Regions from separate parts of the Homo sapiens genome. Here region 1 is linked to region 2. The links come from fine-mapping of genetic effects on gene expression. Tissue or cell type: whole blood. Region 2 holds a variant in brackets; the other region holds the start of a gene. All regions are shown on one strand. Distances are from middle to middle.

Region 1 (5,878 bases), 110 kb before region 2:
GCAGAGACACTCTCCTCTGGGCTCAGCTGTTTCTTTCTTGGCACCAGATCATCCATCAGTATATAAGCCTGCTTTTCATTCTCCCAACTCACACCTGTCAGAATTCTCTCCCCTTTCTCAGGAATGCTTTGGTAATGAGTCATCCACATGTCCTGCCTCCACAACCTCCTTTCCGCTTCACTCCCTAAACCTCTGCAGTATGCGTCTGTCACTCCACGAACCTGGCTTGTCAAGGAACGTTCACTGGGCATGTGTTTATTAAGCTCTTGCTCTATCTACATTATGCTGAGTTAGGCAGTGGGAAAATGAAGGTGATCAAACCAGTCCCAAACTCTGGGCTCCTATGATAATGGACACATACACAACTAAGTAAACAATGCAATTAGAGTCTGGGAAAGTTCTATAAAGAAAGCAAACCATGGCCGGGCACGGTGGCTTACGCCTGTAATCCCAGCACTTTGGGAGGCCGAGGCGGGCAGACCACCTGAGGTCAGGAGTTCAACACCAGCCTGGCCAACATGGTGAAAACCCGTCTCTACTAAAAATAATTCTTTAAAAATTAGCTGGGAGTGGTGGTGTGCGCCCGTAATCCCAGCTACTCAGGAGGCTGAGGCAGGAGAATCGCTTGAACCCGGGAGGCAGAGGTTGCAGTGAGCTGAGATCGCACCACTGCACTCCAGCCTGGGAGACAGAGTGAGACTGTCTAAAAAAAAGAAAAAAAAAAAAAGAATAGAAAAGAAAGGAAACCATGAGAGGACACAGAATCACTGGTGAGATGAGGCAGTGGTTCTCTATTTTAGATAATGGAGTCCAGGGAGGCCTCTATAGGAAAGAGCACACCATCCAAAAAGCAGGGAGAAGGGCAGTCCAGGTGGCTGGGATAGCAAGTGCAAAGGTCCTGAGGCAGAACACACATTTGTGGTTGGCAGGAAAGAAAGGCAATGCGTTTGGAGAGAAGTAAATGACAGAGGTTGTCAGGGTCAAGTGGGTAAAGAATTGATCTTCAATGCAAGGGGATGTCCTTGCAGATTTAAGGGACAGGATCTGATTTGTATCTTAAAACAAGTCCCCAAGCCCCACTGCCGTGTGGAAAATGAACTATAGGGGGAAGAGGTGGAGAAGGCAACAGAGTTGTTAGAGGCAACAATTTCTCAATTCTGATGTCCAACAGGCATCTCACATTTAATGCATCCAACAAAAATATCTGGCTCATCATTCCCCCTCAAAACAAAACAAACAAAGCCCCTGCTCCCCACTCAATCTTCCATCTCTGTAAACAGCCCACCATTCACCCAGTTGTCAAGCCAAAGACATAGGGGCTATCCTTGCCTCCTTTTTCTCCCTCATCTTCTGTGTCCCAAGTCCAGTACTCTTTCTTTGTCCACTCCTCTGCATTCCCACTGTCCTCCCTCAGGTCCAGGCAGCCCTCTCTCCTTCCTCCCCTCTGCTCCTTCTCCACGAAAGAGTCAGGCGTGCTTTTCTTTTTTTTTTTTGAGACAGAGTCTCGCCCTGTAGCCCAGGCTGGAGTGCAATGGTGCGATCTTGGCTCACTGCAACCTCCACCTCCCAGATTCAAGCAATTCTCCTGCCTCAGCCTCCAGAGTAGCTGGGATTACAGGCACGTGCCACCACGCCCCGTGAATTTTTTTTTTTTTTTTTTTTTTTTTTTTGGATTTTTAGTAGAGATGGGGTTTCACCATGTTGTCCAGGCTGGTCTGGAACTCCTGACCTCGTGATCCGCCCACCTCAGCCTCCCAAAGTGCTGGGATTACAGGGGTGCTTTTAAGAACACAGATCGGCCAGGTGCGGTGGCTCACGCCTGTAATCCCAGCACTTTGGGGGACAGAGGCGAGCGGATCGCGAGGTCAGGAGTTCGAGACCAGCCTGGCCAACATGGTGAAACCCCGTCTCTACTAAAAATGTAAAAATTAGCCGGGCGTGGTGGTGGGCGCCTGTAATCCCAGCTACTCGGGAGGCTGAGGCAAGAGAATCGCTTGAAACCGGAAGGCGGAGGTTGCAGTGGGCCGAGATTGTGCCACTGCCCTCCAGCCTCGGTGGAAGAGCGAAACTCCGTCTCAAAAAAAAAAAAAAAGAAAAAGAACACAGATCTTCTTGCCCAACAACATCCCTCAAGGACTCCTTTCTTTTTCAGTATCTTGAATAAGACTTAAGAGACAGGTCCTGGAGAAACAGAGAAGGGAGGAGGCAGCCTGAAGGGGGCGGAGGCAAGCTCGTAGCACCGCCTCCACGTCTGGCTTGCGTTCTTCCGGGCTTCGGAACTTTTCTTCGCGGAGCCTGGGGAAGCTTTTCCAGTAGTACTTTCCGGCGTTGTTGACCCTATTTCCCGTGCTGCACCGCAGCCCCTTTCTCTTCCGGTTCTAGGCGCTTCGGGAGCCGCGGCTTATGGTGAGTGTTGGCCGCGCGGCATCCGATGCCATCCGCGACTTACGGGTGGCGGCGGGGCGCGGGCTGCGGAGAGGACTGGTGACCGACCGTGTGTCTGTCGGGAGCAAAAGCTGCGGGGTGGGAATGGTGCTTCTAGGTCCTAGGAGGGGGATGGCAGGGAAAGCCACTTTATTGGGGAATGCAGCTTTCCGGGGGTAAGGAGTTGATTTCAGGGCATCATTACCTGGGTTTGGGAGGCCAGGACTGGCGTTTGGTCGTGCAGAGTAAGCCGAGACTCGTGGAGGCTGCACATTCTCTGCCTGCAGGCTCATTCTGACCAGAATGGGGGGGGCAGAGGTGGCCCAGCCTGGCGAGCCCTTAACCCTGATCTCCACTTTTGTCTTCCAGGTGCAGACATGGCCAAGTCCAAGAACCACACCACACACAACCAGTGTAAGTTTTTTGGGCCCTGCCTACATCCCAGACCCTGGCAAGGACTGGTTCAGGCAAACTGGGACAGAGATGAAGGGGCACGTTTCCATTGTGGGCCTGAGGCTGATTGATTTCACCCAGTAATAACTTTAGGGTTTATAGGTTTAGAGATCTACTTGAGATACAGAGTGTTTTGCATTTAGTAGTAAGGGTTTCCCATATCTCAAGTGTAGCTGCTGTAGGAAGTGTTGGTTCTCCCAGACTTGCCAGCTGTGATGTTGGGTGGTCTTATTAGAGGAAAGTTCTTTGTTGGCTTAATTCCCTTTTTTTCTCCCACAGCCCGAAAATGGCACAGAAATGGTATCAAGAAACCCCGATCACAAAGATACGAATCTCTTAAGGGGGTGAGTGCACTGAATCACATGGAAGTGTCTTTTCTTGGTTCCAGGTGCACAGTCAAGGCCTCTCATGTAGTTTTTCTCTAGCTTTGGCTTCTGCCTGAGCACAGCCTAACTGGCCCACCCAAAGCCTGCAATTCCTTTTTCTACCCTACCAGACCCATAATAAAGCTTTCCTTGGTCTCCACAGCCTGAAGTGTAACCCTCTGGTCAGGGTGTAACCTGCCTCCTGAGGGCAGTTTGGCTATCTCCCTTGCTTGGCAGTGGCACTTAGGGTAAGGAGTGGCCTTGTCTGAGTGCGTGCAGGGCACATTCCCACACTGACCAGCCTTATGACCTCCATCTGACCCAGTGCTGGAGTTGGGGTCAGCTTCTCTTCCTGTGTCAGGGGGTTCTAAGGATTAGCTGAGAAGGCTGGAGGGTCTAGGGGAGAGCTGAGCATGTCCCCAGTCTGTTCCTTCCCTTTACTTTTGCTCTCTGTTCCGTGGAGTGAATCACAAACTCTGAGCCTCAGTTTCCCCATATCCCACCTTGGCTATAAGTCTTTTGGACCAGACTTGGTATTTAATTGACACCTTCTTCTAAAGAGGGGAGGGGGTGTCCCTGAGGGGATGTCAGGAAAAAACTTGGTCGAACCCCTGCTGTAGGAAGTTGAAGCCCCACAACCTTGGCAGACAGGGCAGCAAAGCAGCTTGTAATTTTGTTCTTGAAGGAGGTCTGCACAGCATTACCCAGGTGGCGTATTGGCTCCCTGGGGTGGTGGTACACTTTCTCTGGAAATAGTTTCAAGAGGTTGGGTATTTCCACATTTGAGGTTGACTTGATGCTGTCTTTAGAATGCTGGGTACCCCTATGGAGAGGGGCAGCAGGGAGAGACTTGGGGACCCACATGCTGCCACCTGTACCTTTCCTGCTTTTCAGGTGGACCCCAAGTTCCTGAGGAACATGCGCTTTGCCAAGAAGCACAACAAAAAGGGCCTAAAGAAGATGCAGGCCAACAATGCCAAGGCCATGAGTGCACGTGCCGAGGCTATCAAGGCCCTCGTAAAGCCCAAGGAGGTTAAGCCCAAGATCCCAAAGGGTGTCAGCCGCAAGCTCGATCGACTTGCCTACATTGCCCACCCCAAGCTTGGGAAGCGTGCTCGTGCCCGTATTGCCAAGGGGCTCAGGCTGTGCCGGCCAAAGGCCAAGGCCAAGGCCAAGGCCAAGGATCAAACCAAGGCCCAGGCTGCAGCCCCAGCTTCAGTTCCAGCTCAGGCTCCCAAACGTACCCAGGCCCCTACAAAGGCTTCAGAGTAGATATCTCTGCCAACATGAGGACAGAAGGACTGGTGCGACCCCCCACCCCCGCCCCTGGGCTACCATCTGCATGGGGCTGGGGTCCTCCTGTGCTATTTGTACAAATAAACCTGAGGCAGGATTTGTTAGCCTCTGTCTATGATCCTGGGGATGGGTTTGGTTGCTCCATCTGTTGGTGTGGGAGAAGACATGGGTCTGGATGGTGGGGTGTGGGTGGGAGTCAGGAGATGGGGCCCTGAAGTGCAAGAGGAGGACCTAATGAATGAGAAATGATTGGGGGCTTTTGGGAAGCTCGGGCACATAGCTTGCTGGACTGTGTAACCTGCCGAGCAAAGGGAGAAATTTTTTTTTTTTTTTTTGAGACAGAATCGTGCTCTGTCACCCAGGCTGGAGTGCAGTGGTGCCATCTCGGCTCACTGCAAGCTCCGCCTCCCAGGTTCACACCATTCTCCTGCCTCAGCCTCCCAAGTAGCTGGGACTACAGGTGCCTGCCACTACACCCGGCTAATTTTGTTTTTGTATTTTTAGTAGAGATGGGGTTTCACTGTGTTAGCCAGGATGGTCTTGATCTCCTGACCTTGTGATCTGCCTGCCTCGGCCTCCCAAAGTGCTGGGATTACAGGCGTGAGCCAGTGCTCCTGGCCCAAAGGGAGAAATCTTAAACATCCTCATGAGGTCTTAAAGCTTACTGCAAGGGAGGGGAAGGGGCCCCGCTGAGCAGCTCTGCACTCTGGCCTGAGGTGTCCCAGATTTGGGCTCTTTTGGTGCACCTGGTCAGCATCCACTGCTCTGGGCTATGTTAGTCCCCCAACAGCTAGGGACCCAGGAAGGCAGGTGGTAGTGGCACTGCCTTACTCCCGTGACTGGTTCTGACCCTTCTGTGCCCCTGGGTCAGCTGCTTCACATGGAGGTCTTTATCCTCAGCAGTCAGTGAAGAAAGTACTGAAGTAATAGTAAGCCTTTGTGGAGGCTGCCTATAGAAGGCACCACGTGGGCACTTCCTGGCCGCACTTAATCCTCAAAACCAGCCTTGGTCCAACCTCGGACACTTTAGAAACTCCTAAAGGGGTGCTGTTATGCTACAGCTGCAGGTGCAGCCCATGGCATGTGATCCCCTACTTCTGAAGTAGGTATTATGATTATCTTTGTTTCACGGGTGAGAAAATATTGAAGATAATGAACCTACGAAGGGGTGGGGGTAGCATTTGATCTAGGCAGTCCATGTGGGGCCCTAGGAGGTTTCAATTGCCCAACCAGAGCTGGGGCTGCTAGCTCTTGACTGTAATCCTGGAAGTCTCTGGGTGGCCAACTGCCCCTTGCCAAGGCATGACAGGTGGAGGTGGGTTTGAAAGGGAGCAAGAGCA
Region 2 (5,878 bases):
AAAATCTTTATTATTTACAGTTAGAAAAGGAGTTCTTAGATATGACAACAAATGTGAAATTCATAAAGGAAAAAAATTTATTAATTGGACTTCATCCATGAAAGATACTGTTAAGAAAATGAAAATATAAGCCACATAATGGGAGAAAATATAAATCACATACCTCACAGATAATTTTTATCCATAATATATAGAGAACTCTCAAAATTAATTAGCAATTGTGATGGTTAATGCATGTGTCGACTTGACTGGGCTAAAAGATGCCCAGATAGCTGGTAAAACACAATTTCTTGGTGTGTCTGTGAGTATGTTTCTGGAAGAGATTAGCATTGAAATTGGTAGGCTGGGTCAATGAGGTTGCCCTCACCAATGTGGTGGCCAGTATCCAATTTGTTGAGAGCCTAAATAGAACAAAAAGGTGGAAGAAGTGTGAATACACTCTCTTTTCTTGAGCTGGGACATTCACCTTCTCCTACAGAGCTCCTGGTTCTCTGGCTTTCGACTTTGGGACTTGCACCAGAGGGCAGTCCTCCCTTTCCCACCCTTCCAACTCCAGCCAAATTACATCACCAGCTTTCCTGGTTCTCCAGCTTTCAGAGAGCAGATTGTGAGACTTCTCAGCCTCCATAGTTGCAGTAAGCCAATCCCATGATAAATCTGTTTCTATCTCTACCTCCTATTGGTTCTGTTTCTCTGGAGAACCTCAGTGAATACAGTAATAAACAGCCCATTAAAATATGGCCAAAGACTTAAGCAGACGCATTACTAAGAAGACATACGGATACCAACTAAGCACATGAAAAGATGCTCATCACCATTAGCCATTAGAGAAACGAGTTAGTAAACTTTTCCAGTAAAGGATTAGATACATAGTAAACATTTCCAGCTTCATGGGCTGAGAGGCAAAATTGATGATATGACGTGTATACGTAGTTATATAGCAAGAGAGAAAACAAGTTTCCACAAATTTTTATTGATGAAATTAAAGATATAATAAAAATTGAGTAAGTTTTGTAATACAGGTGGACTAATGAAAACAATGCATTTTTGGGGGTGGGCAGAAGGACCATGTTTAGTTTAATCAGTGCTGAAAGTTAGTGTTTCCTGTCATCAAAATCAGTTGCACATGCTTATATGTGATGAATTTTATATATTTCATCTTTGCAATGTCTTTTTACACGTATAGGCACTATGTAAAATATTTGGTACTGCCAAATACTAATATGAATCTGATATGGTTTGGATCTGTATCCCCACCAAATCTCATGTTGAACTGTAATTCTCAATGTTGGAGGTGGGGCCTGGTGGGAAGTGATTGGAGCATGGGGGTGGTCCTTCATGGAGGGTTTAACACCATCCCCTTGGTGCTGTTCCTGTGATAGTGAGTTCCCATGAGATCTGGTTGTTTGAAAGTGTAGCACCTCCCCCGCCTCCTCCCTGCGACCCTTCCTCCTGCTCCAGCCATGTGAAGTGCCAGCTTCCTTTTCATCTTCTGCCATGATTGTTAAGTTTCCTGAGGTCTCCCCAGAAGCCAAGCAGATGCTGCCATGCTTCCTGTACAGCCTGAAGAATCATGAGCCAATTAGACCTCTTTTCTTTATAAGTTACCCAGTCTCAGGTATTTCTTTATAGCAGTGGAAAAATGAGCTAATGTAGAATCCATGAACATATGACTTTGATTGAGAATATTCTTCACTTGGGAGATACTTATAAGAGTTCTATTAGATTCTTCTTTTGACATTTGCCTGTACGCATGTCATTACATTGTTGATTAACTACTTCCAGCTGAAGTTCAGGTGGTCACTACTCAATTGCTTAAATAAATATATTTAGAAATGTTGAAATTCCCCTTGTACTTGCATAGAAGTCTGAAATGCACGTGCTGCTGGAACTGCAGTTTGAGTTCAGAAAAGATACCCCCTGCAAATTTGTGTGGGAATGGATATCTCACTTCATGTTTTAACTTTTGACAGCTCGGGAAGTACTTAGAGCAGCTTAACATTACTTGTGATTCAACATTGTTGCCAACTTGACTTTACCATAGTATAGATATTATGTATAAGTTTTGTTTTTCCCTTTAACTTCAGGTTTAATTCATTAAGGAACATAAAGACTGCAGCAAAAACTTATTTCTAGTGCTATTCAGTGCTGGATAATAGTAGTTAAAGGCAGTTTTTCTCATTCAGAAAAATTTCAATCTCGACCTTTAACTTTAAAGTTCTCAGTAAAACCTTACCATTGCTAAGCTATGGAACTGCTGTGTGGTTGGGCAAGTCAGCAAATTCAGCTTCTATTTCTAAAAAAAGTTCATGGAACTGATGATGGTTGAGTCAATGATGCCATGTGAAGTCTACCATTGACACTACTGGTTCAGTAACAGGATTGATTCCAATGTTTTCCACAAAGTACCTACAGATGAATGATACAATGAATAACCATAGGCTTTAAGCACCTACATTTTCATAAACTTTGTTTTTTCAACTAAGCCTTTGTTCGGCCTCACACATATTTTCACTACTATCAGATTTATCACATCTTGGCAGATTCCATTTCAGGCTGTGTTGAATTAGCATTTTCTCAATTTCTTCAACAAATATTCTCATCCATGTTTGTTTCATACACATAGAGGTTAATTTCTGTCACTTCAAACTTGGCAGTTACCCTTCAATAAGCAACAGCCAAGCCGTATTGGTACATCTGTCAACTCATTAAGAGCCAAGAAAAACCACTTGAAATCATTTGCCTTGTTGTTTAATTGGCTATTGATATTGTTACTCATGTCTTTGACTTTTTGAGCAGTTATTCTCATTGAGAGACTAACAATGGGCTGGGTGTGGTGGCTCACATCTGTAATCCCAGCATTCAGGAGGCTGAGATGGGCGGATCACCTGAGGTCAGGAGTTCAAGACCAGCCTGGCCAACATGGTGAAACCCCGTCTCTACTAAAAATACAAAATTAGCCAGGTGTGGTGGCACATGCCTGTAATCCCAGCTACTCGGGAGGCTGAGTCAGGAGAATTGCTTGAACTTGGGAGGTGGAGGTTGCACTGAGCCGAGATCACACCACTGCACGCCAGCCTGGGTAACAGAGCTACAGTCAGCCTCAAAAAAAAAAAAAAAAAAAAAGGCTAATGATGTTTATTTTCTCTGGACACATTTCTTCAGCTGTTGCAATCAAATATGATTTAATTAACTCACTACTGGTAATAAAAATAACCTTTCCCTGCTTGGCTAACAAATGAGCAACTTGGTAACCTATTTTGCTTGCAGTCTCATTTTGATTTTTTAGTTTTTGTAAAGAAATTCTACTGTGATGAGATATGCCACTTAAAATGTTTAACTTTGATGATTATTAACTTCTTGCAAGTTAAGAATATTGTGGAGTGCTTAGTCTGGTAATGTTGATGGATAACATCGTGTTCTTTTAGCATAGCTATAGTGTCATTGCATAATGGACACAATGCTTTGCCATTGTCTTAAAAGTGCGACATTTAAAGTCTGCTTTTGTCTTTTCTTCTTATTTTGATGTGATGGGCATGCACTGGTAATTAAAAAATAGGTCACAGTACAGCAGTATATGTGGCACACAGAACACTGTTTAGCTATAACTGCACCTCTGTGATTTTTGTGGGCTGAGCAGCAGGGGAAATGAGGAGAGTGCCATGTATGGTCCCCTTCAACAAATATTTAACTCTGTCATTGTAGTGCAAATGTGGCTATAGACAATATATAAGCAAATAAGC[A/C]TGGTAGTGTTCCAATAAAACTTTATAGACACAGAAATTTGAATTTTGTATAATTTTCATGTGTCATGAAATAATATTCTTTGAGTTTTTCCAATCACTGCAAAATGTACAAATATTCTTTGCAGGATGTACAAAAACAGGCAGGCAGTGGGCTGTATTGACCTACCAGTTGTAGAATGCCCAACCATGCCCCAAGTCAATGTCCATTACACAATGCTGAGCCCCTAACAGGAACCAATATGTGGAATGATAGTGGACCTGTGACTACGCCTCAAGTTATTCACTTGGGAATTTATGCATTCTGTCCCTGTAACTTCAGGCTCCATCTGACTGGAGGTACTAGATTCTAGGGAGGAAAGACATTTATCAGGGGTCACAGTAAGAGTCTCACTAAACATAAAGCTATGGCTGTGACCTGGTCACTTTATCCTCCTTATGCCAAGAGACAAGAAGTCACTCTATAATGAAAGGAGTCACTCTGTTGGCAGGAATAATTAACACTGATCATTAGGAGAAGATGCACTGCTGCTACACTAGGTGGGGGTGAGCAGGAAAGACTATGAATGTGGCTTGGATGATTCACTGGAAAATTTCTTGGTGCTTCGCTGCCTAGGTGTAATGGTAGATTAACCCATACAGCAATCATAGCCTGAGAATTATAGCCAGAGAATTATAGCCAGGGATGAGGGTCTGGATCACCACTGCACCCACTTCCCTTCCCATTACTGGCAACCTGTGTAGACAGCAGAGATGCAAGTCAAACAGGAAAGGAATCTAGAAAGGGTAGTGGATGAAGGGGAAAAGGTGTGTGACTGATGGTCTCAAAGTAAATGATGGGCCTGTAACTTGTCCTTTTGACCCTTTTCTTTTTTCTTCAGGAGTACACATGCGGGTTTATTAAACATAAGTAAACTTGTGTTATTGGGGTTTCTTGTACATTTTGTTACCCAGGTAATAAGCCTATTACCCATAAGTTATTTTTCTTGATCTTCTCCCTCCTCCCACCATCCACCCTCCAATAGGCCCCAGCATCTGTTGTTCCCCTCTATGTGTCCATGTGTTCTCACCATTTAGCTCCCACTTATGAGTGAGGACATGTGGTATTTGGTTTTCAGTTTTGTGTTAGTTTGCTAAGGATAATGGACTCCAGCTCCATCCATGTTCCTGCAAAAGACATAATCTCATTCTTTTTTATGGCTGCATAGTATTCCATGGTGTATATGTATGTACCACATTTTCTCAGTCTACCAATGATGGGCATTTAGGTTGTAAGGAATATAAATCATTCTATCATAAAGACACATGCATATGTATGTTTATTGCAGCACTATTCACAATAGCAAAGACATAACTCTTCTCTTTTAAGTTTTCCCAGGAGACAAGACCAACCAGAATCGTTATTTTTAAATGGTGAACATTTACTATGGGAAGCAAGTAGATATGAGTGGCATAAAGGGTTGGGCTGCAGTGGATTTGCAGATGTAGTGGATCCTTTCTTCATAGCTGGTGACTCATCCCACATCTCTTGGGAATATTGGCTGCTGCTCGGTCACTGCTGTCATCCATTGGGAATTGTTTTTGGCCATAGGGAAGAGATTTGACCAAGATTATGTCCTCTCCTAAGGGGAATCCTGCAGCCAATCACTGGCTTGTGGTTGGTGTTATAGGTTGAAGTGTATCCCTCCTAAAAGATATGTTGAAGTCCTAACCCTCAATACCTCAAAAAGTGACCTTATTTGGAAATAGAGCTTTTGCAGATGTAGTCAATAAGATGAAGTCATTGGGTGGGCCCTAATCTGATATGATTAGTGTCCTCATATTAAGGGGAAAGTTGGACACAGGCACAGATGTGCACAGGGGGAAGAATATGTGAAGACACAGGGAGAATGCCATGTGAAGACAGAGGATTGGAGCGATGTGTCTACATGCCATGGAACACCATGGGGGATGCCAGCACATCCCCCAAAGCTAGGAAGAGGAAAGGAAAGGTCCTTTTCCTACAGGTTTCAGGAGCATGGCCTTGCTGACACATTGATTTTGGGTTTCTAACCTCCAGAACTGTGAGCCAATTAAACTTCTGTTGTTCTAGTCCCCTGTCTTAGTTTGTCCAGGCTGCTATAAGAAAATACTATAAG

The links. PIP is the estimated chance that this variant, and not a neighbour inherited with it, causes the effect.
Region 1: it holds the start of RPL29, and the variant in region 2 is fine-mapped to the expression of RPL29 in whole blood (TOPMed, PIP above 0.99).

Annotation. Positions count from the first base shown.
Region 1 is chr3:51,992,385-51,998,262 of GRCh38, reverse strand. It overlaps RPL29 (ribosomal protein L29), which reads left to right and starts at 2,368. Exons shown (of 4, transcript NM_000992.3): 1 at 2,368-2,406; 2 at 2,794-2,838; 3 at 3,157-3,221; 4 at 4,137-4,741. The coding sequence starts at 2,802. The coding sequence ends at 4,514. RefSeq lists enhancers at 2,264-2,423, 4,177-4,909.
Region 2 is chr3:51,879,502-51,885,379 of GRCh38, reverse strand. No RefSeq gene overlaps it. Among named protein-coding and RNA genes, the nearest start is that of IQCF5, 6.8 kb to the right of the region's middle. The variant A/C (reference allele first, on the strand shown) is at 3,744.